Linked DNA regions of Homo sapiens: region 2 is linked to region 1. Evidence: fine-mapped expression QTL. Tissue or cell type: pancreas. Region 1 holds a variant in brackets; the other region holds the start of a gene. All regions are shown on one strand. Distances are from middle to middle.

Region 1 (2,915 bases):
AAAAGTATTTTCATTGAAAGGAGCAAGGAGTTATATTTTTCTTGTGGTGTCTCAAATATTCTGAATATTTGTTTGCTCTGACTTGCATTTTAAAACGAGCTTTTATAGGTAGAAAGCAAATACAGAGAGTTATCAGTCCAAAAGAGTATTTTGTTTCTTCCGTTAAGAAAACTAAACAATTACAAATAGGGTCTAAAGAAAAACATTTCACCATAACAAAAGTGTTTTCTTCTAAGAAACAAATGAAAAGTAAAGTTTGTTTTCAGGTGAGTGTTAAAACTTACTAATCATGATAAATAACAACTATTGCATTTCCTGGAAGTTTCTTCAAAACTAAACTAAAAGGACAGGTAGTCTTAATTAGCCATTGGGCCTGGAACTGCAAAATACTAATCTGTACTTTTTTCAGCCCAGAAATATTTATCCCAGGACACCAGTCTGATCAGGGTGTAAAGCGGGACTATACATTAGAGTTAGAGCTAGGAGCAAAGCCACAATGTCAGAAGGGTCAGTGGCAAGCAATTCTTGTCTTTCCATTCTTTTTTTCTTCCACAGTCCTTTATACTGCAGTTTGGAAGAGGACTGTTAAAAGGGATGAAAACAACCATAAAGAGGAAAACATAAAATTTATAATGCAATAGTTCAGAACAATTTCAAAGGAATAGGATACGGCAGCAAACTCCTAGTAGGCAACTGCGGTTTCAAGTCACTACCATTTTGAGAACTGACTCCCATATCCTTTTTCTTTTCTCATCTTTGTTCTTTTCCACCTTCTGTTACTCTCAACTCTTCCTATCTTCCCCAACTTTGCCCAGTTGTAAAAAAAAAAAAATCAACAAAATCTGACCTACATCTCAATAGTATCCACCTCTGCTATATTTTTCTATTATGGAATCTCCTCCTTCCAGGAGAAGGCTTTATCTCGATTTCAAAGCAATCTGCAGTAGTCAGGATTCTAAAGTGACTGACTCACAGCCAGAAATGGTTGGAAATCCTCTGACCTACTAAAAGAAAGAAAGAACTATAAAAAGAGCTATATCCACTTACCACGAACCTGCTTTTTTATTTCTTTGGCGGAATCCAGCCATGTCTGTAAAAAGGAGAAAAGGCATTCACACAGAGCTCCAAAACACATAAACAACAGAGTACTGGAAGCAAGATCACTGACTATCTTCAAATAGTGCCTCCAGATCAACCTGCATTTCCTTTGATAGTCTTTGCATTAATTTCACAAAGCATAGTGATTTTGAGCAGACAAAAAGGGACCCTGACATTTGGGTTGAATATTAGCTCCACTACTTCCTGGCTGAGTGACTTTAGGAAATCTGTACCTCAGTTTCCTCATCTATACAATGAGATATTGGTAGTAGTGCCTACTTCATAGTGTTACTGTGAAGATAAAATGAGTTAATACATGTAAATATATTAGTAAACAGCAAATGCTAAGTAAGCATTGGTTATTTATATTATTCTATAAAGACTAGTAGATAGCTACAACCAGAATTAATTGACAGCATCCACATTTTATTTTCCCCTCCAACCCTGACCTTTAGTCTCCTTCAAGTTTTTTCTTTTTTTTTTTTTCTTTTTGAGAAGGAGTCTCGCTCTATTGCCCTGGCTAGAGTGCACTGGCACAATCTCAGCTCACTGCAACCTCCGCCTCG[T/C]GGGTTCAAGCAATTCTCCTGACTCAGCCTCCCAAGTAGCTGGGATTACAGGTGCCCACGACCACACCCGGCTAATTTTTGTATTTTTAGTAGAGATGGGGTTTTGCCAAACATGTTGGCTAGGCTGGTCTCAAACTCTTTTCTTTTTTTTCTTTTTTTTTTTTTTTTGACAGAGTTTCACTCTTGTCGCCCAGGCTGGAGAGCAATGGCGCAATCTCGATGTCAGCCCACTGCAACCTCCGCCTCCCGGGTTCAAGTGATTCTCCTGCCTCCGCCTCCTGAGTAGCTGGGATTACAGGTGCATGCCACCATGCCATGCCCAGCTAATTTTTGTATTTTTAGTAGAAATGGGGTTTCACCATGTTGGTCAGGCTGGTCTCCAACTCCTGACCTCAGGTGATCTGCCCGGCTCGGCCTCCCAAAGTGCTGGGATTATAGGCATGAGCCACTATGCCTGGCCAAAGTTTTCTATATCAGCACAGTATTCAGTACATGGCTTGTGCCCAGTTAACGTTTACTGAATGAATAAATATTTTGTTTTCCCAAACTACTCTTGCCCACGCCAATCTTGTCCTTCACTGTTCTCCCACTCCACTTAGAATCTGCACACCACTAGGCTAGGGCTCCTCAACCCATGGTAGACCATGCAAAATAAGGGCACTGGAAAAGAACCTCACCATTAACATCTTTCATAGGTCCCTTTGAGAAATGTTTAAAGACAGAAATTTCTAAATTTCTAGAATTGTTTAAAACATTTTAATGGAATACAAGATACATGTCGAAAAGTACATAAAACATAAGTATAAAGATCAATAAAATATCAAAGTGAACATATAAGAATTATAACATTACTAGCACCTCAGGAGCCCCTCTCTTGCCTCTTCCTAATCCCTCCCCTTCCCTTGTCCAAAAGATTTAAAATTGAATTTCAGTGGCATTTTATTTATTTATTTAGACAGGGTCTCGCTCTGTGGCCCAGGCTGGAGTTTAGTGATGCAATCTTGGTTCTCTGCAACCTCCGCCTCCCGGGTTCAAGCAATTCTCCTGCCTCAGCCTCCCGAGTAGCTGGGATTACAGGCAACCACCACCATGCCTGGCTAATTTTTTTGTATTTTTAGTAGAGATGGGGTTTCACCATGTTGGCCAGGCTGGTCTGGAACTCCTGGCCTCAAGTGATCTGCCCACCTCGGCCTCCCAAAGTGCTGAGATTACAGGTGTCAGCCACCGTACCCAGAGACAGTGGTATTTAGA
Region 2 (2,915 bases), 220 kb before region 1:
GAGGCCTGGTGACTTGTCCGAAATCAAATGGCTGGAAAATGGCAGAGCTAGGACATAAAGCCAGGTTTGTCCAAATCTAGCTCACAGTACTTTGCTGTGCTCTCTTCCTCAGAGGAAAGGCTTGGAGATGGCAAGCTTCAAGTCAATAAAATCCAGGAAAGGAACTCTTCCTTATCCTTCAAAGCCCTGGCTCAGTATCTTAAAACCTGTTTCCTGGGACACCTGCATCAGAATATTCTTGGGAGCTTGTAAGGATGTAGATTCCTGGAACCCCCATCCGCAAGATTCTAATTCAGTAGGTCTAAGATGGGACCTCGGATTATTTTTATGCACACAGAAGATTTTGAATCACAGGGCTGGCTCTAACAGCACCTCCTCCAAGAGCCCCCACCCCATCCCACCCCATCCCAGAGCACTTCTCTTCAGACTACAGCATTGCACTCTGGCACGAGCCACAGCTCGATCTGGGGTTTTAGTAATGTTCATGTCTTCCCTACACCAAAAATCAGACTAGATCCTTCATAGGGCTACACCTTTTTACAGGCATTTCCAGTGTTCCACTTAATCCCTTTCTACACTGTGAGCATTTTGAGAGAGGACCCTTCTCCTTGTGATTCCTGTCTTACATCTGAACAGAGTTTTTTACAATGCGTTCTCCCACCCACAATAGCATTCCTCTATTATTTCATCCAATCCTCACAACAATCCGGAAGGAGGCATATTATCCCCATTGTACCGATGAGAAAAATTCAGAGTTTCACCTGCCCAAGGTGGCCAAGCTAGGAAGTGGCAGGGCTAGGATTTGAACCTAAGTTTTCTAACTCCAAGCCCCATACTCCTGCCTCCACAGCAGCTTTCGTGTACTCTCCTCAGTGTAGGGAAGTAAGCTTTGCCTCCCTATGCCGTTACATGGTAGTGGTGATTAAATGAGATAATACCTTAAAGAGCCTGGCTCGGTGAGCACTCAATATATTATGTGAAGGGTAAACTGAGGCCAGGGAGAGTAAATATTTCCTCCAAATCAAACACCAAACTGCAGGCTGTAGACACGACTTTGGACTAGCCCCAGACTCTCCTTGTTGAGACAACAGCTTTGGCGGCCTCGCAAGCTCCGCACCCCCGGATCCCTCCGGGGCCCACACGCAGTCTAGCCAGGCGCCACCACTTGGGCAGCGAAGGAAGGAAACGCCCTTCAAAGGGACCAAGGGGGAGTGGTCACCCGGCGGGGCAGGGGCGGGGCGCAGGCGCGCGGTCGCTGGAAGATGACGTAGCCGGGGCGTCAGGCTCTGTGTTGGTTGGAGCGAGCATGTGGGTCTGCAGTACCCTGTGGCGGGTGCGAACCCCCGCCCGGCAGTGGCGGGGGCTGCTCCCAGCTTCTGGCTGTCACGGACCTGCCGCCTCCTCCTACTCCGCATCCGCCGAGCCTGCCCGGGTCCGGGCGCTTGTCTATGGGCACCACGGGGATCCAGCCAAGGTCGTCGAGTAAGAGACGGCGCCGAAGCCGGGGAAGGGGACTGGGGTTTCTGGAAGGCTTTAACACGAGCTGCGGACTGGGAAGAGAGGGACAGGGTCCGAGGAAGGGGGCAGAGAATAGCAAACCGAAGCCGAAGCCCAGGGCGTTTTTGGTAGGTCAGAAAGACCGTACTTGAAGGTAGCTGAAGACCCGAGAGGCAATTATCAGGGTATTAATGGCTGATGTTTATTGATCGAATATTGTGTCAGGCAATCCCTTGTTTAAATGGATGCTCTCATTTAATTGTCACAACAATGTTTTGGGGTAGTTATTGATTTATCCCCATTTTGCAGATGAAAACTGAGGCAGAAGAGGTAAAATCACTCGTCCAAGGTCACACAGCCAGTAAGTGACAGGGTCAGAATTCCAACCTATGTCTGACTGACCTGCGTGAGTTCTTACTATTATTATTATTATTTGGAAGAAGTTTTCAGAATACTTTTACATCCATTTGGATCTTCATGTGTCAGTAAAGAGTAGGTCATAGATCATTGTTTCCAGAGGGCAAGGGACTTGCCCAGAGTGATACCGCTAATAAGTGATTGGAACAGGAGACTGGAATCCATGGCTTCTGATTCCAAACTCATGTTTCTCTCCACTGCACCGTATATGCATCTTGGCTTGGTTAAAAAGAGCTGCTTTGGTGCCATACAGACCCAAGTATCTATATTTGGTCAAATACAGGCTCAACGTCTTAGTAGCTGTTTGGTCTTAGAGAAGTCATTCAACTTCTCGTTACTTTTATGACTTTGTCCTCCTCCTAAAATTCTGTTGGATCTTAATTCATGCTTTTTGCACGTGGTTGATAAAAATAGTATGTCAGTTGCCAACCATTGTAAATCTGCACATAAATAGCCATTCAGAAGGGCTATTGGGGCCACTGAAGTGGAGCTAAAGCAAAAGCACAGGTCTGGGAATCAAAATACTTGGGGTCAAATCCTTGTCCTAGCTTTGCATTTGGCAAGTTACTGAGGTTCTCTGAGCCTCGGTTTCATCATCTTAAAAAATGGAGACAGTACAGACAAAGTTCATAGTGGTAATCACCTAAGATCTATGTAGTGCTCTCCACCAAAAAACACCTGCATACTCTTGTGCAGTACCTTCTTTTTAACTCTTTGATTCCCAGCAAATAGTTTGATTATTTTCCAAAGGATGGGCAAATGTGGTATTACTTTAATGGTTAAAATTCAGGCTAGAGCTGGGCACGGTGGCTCACGCCTGTAATCCCAGCATTAGGGAGACTGAGGCGGGTGGATCACCTGAGGTCACGAGTTCTAGACCAGCCTGGCCAACGTGGCGAAACCCCATCTCTACTAAAAATACAAAAAAATTAGCCGGGCTTGGTGGTGGGCACCTGTAATCCCTGCTACTCAGGAGGCTGAGGCAGGAGAACCGCTTGAAC

Alleles and levels. Positions count from the first base shown, and alleles are read on the strand shown. Sizes are in standard deviations (SD) of each study's normalised expression.
In carriers of allele T in region 1, the expression in pancreas of the gene that starts at base 1,279 in region 2 tends to be higher than with C alone (moderate effect, 0.47 SD a copy in GTEx).

What was found. PIP is the estimated chance that this variant, and not a neighbour inherited with it, causes the effect.
Region 2: MECR starts here. The variant in region 1 is the best candidate, but not a certain one, in a credible set for the expression of MECR in pancreas (GTEx, PIP 0.57).

The regions. Positions count from the first base shown.
Region 1 is chr1:29,010,040-29,012,954 of GRCh38, reverse strand. It overlaps EPB41 (erythrocyte membrane protein band 4.1), which reads right to left. Exons shown (of 21, transcript NM_001376013.1): 5 at 1,048-1,090. Among named protein-coding and RNA genes, the nearest start is that of EPB41, 97 kb to the right of the region's middle. The variant T/C (reference allele first, on the strand shown) is at 1,665.
Region 2 is chr1:29,229,298-29,232,212 of GRCh38, reverse strand. It overlaps MECR (mitochondrial trans-2-enoyl-CoA reductase), which reads left to right and starts at 1,279. Exons shown (of 10, transcript NM_016011.5): 1 at 1,279-1,482. The coding sequence starts at 1,307. RefSeq lists enhancers at 1,268-1,377, 902-1,402, 1,403-1,903.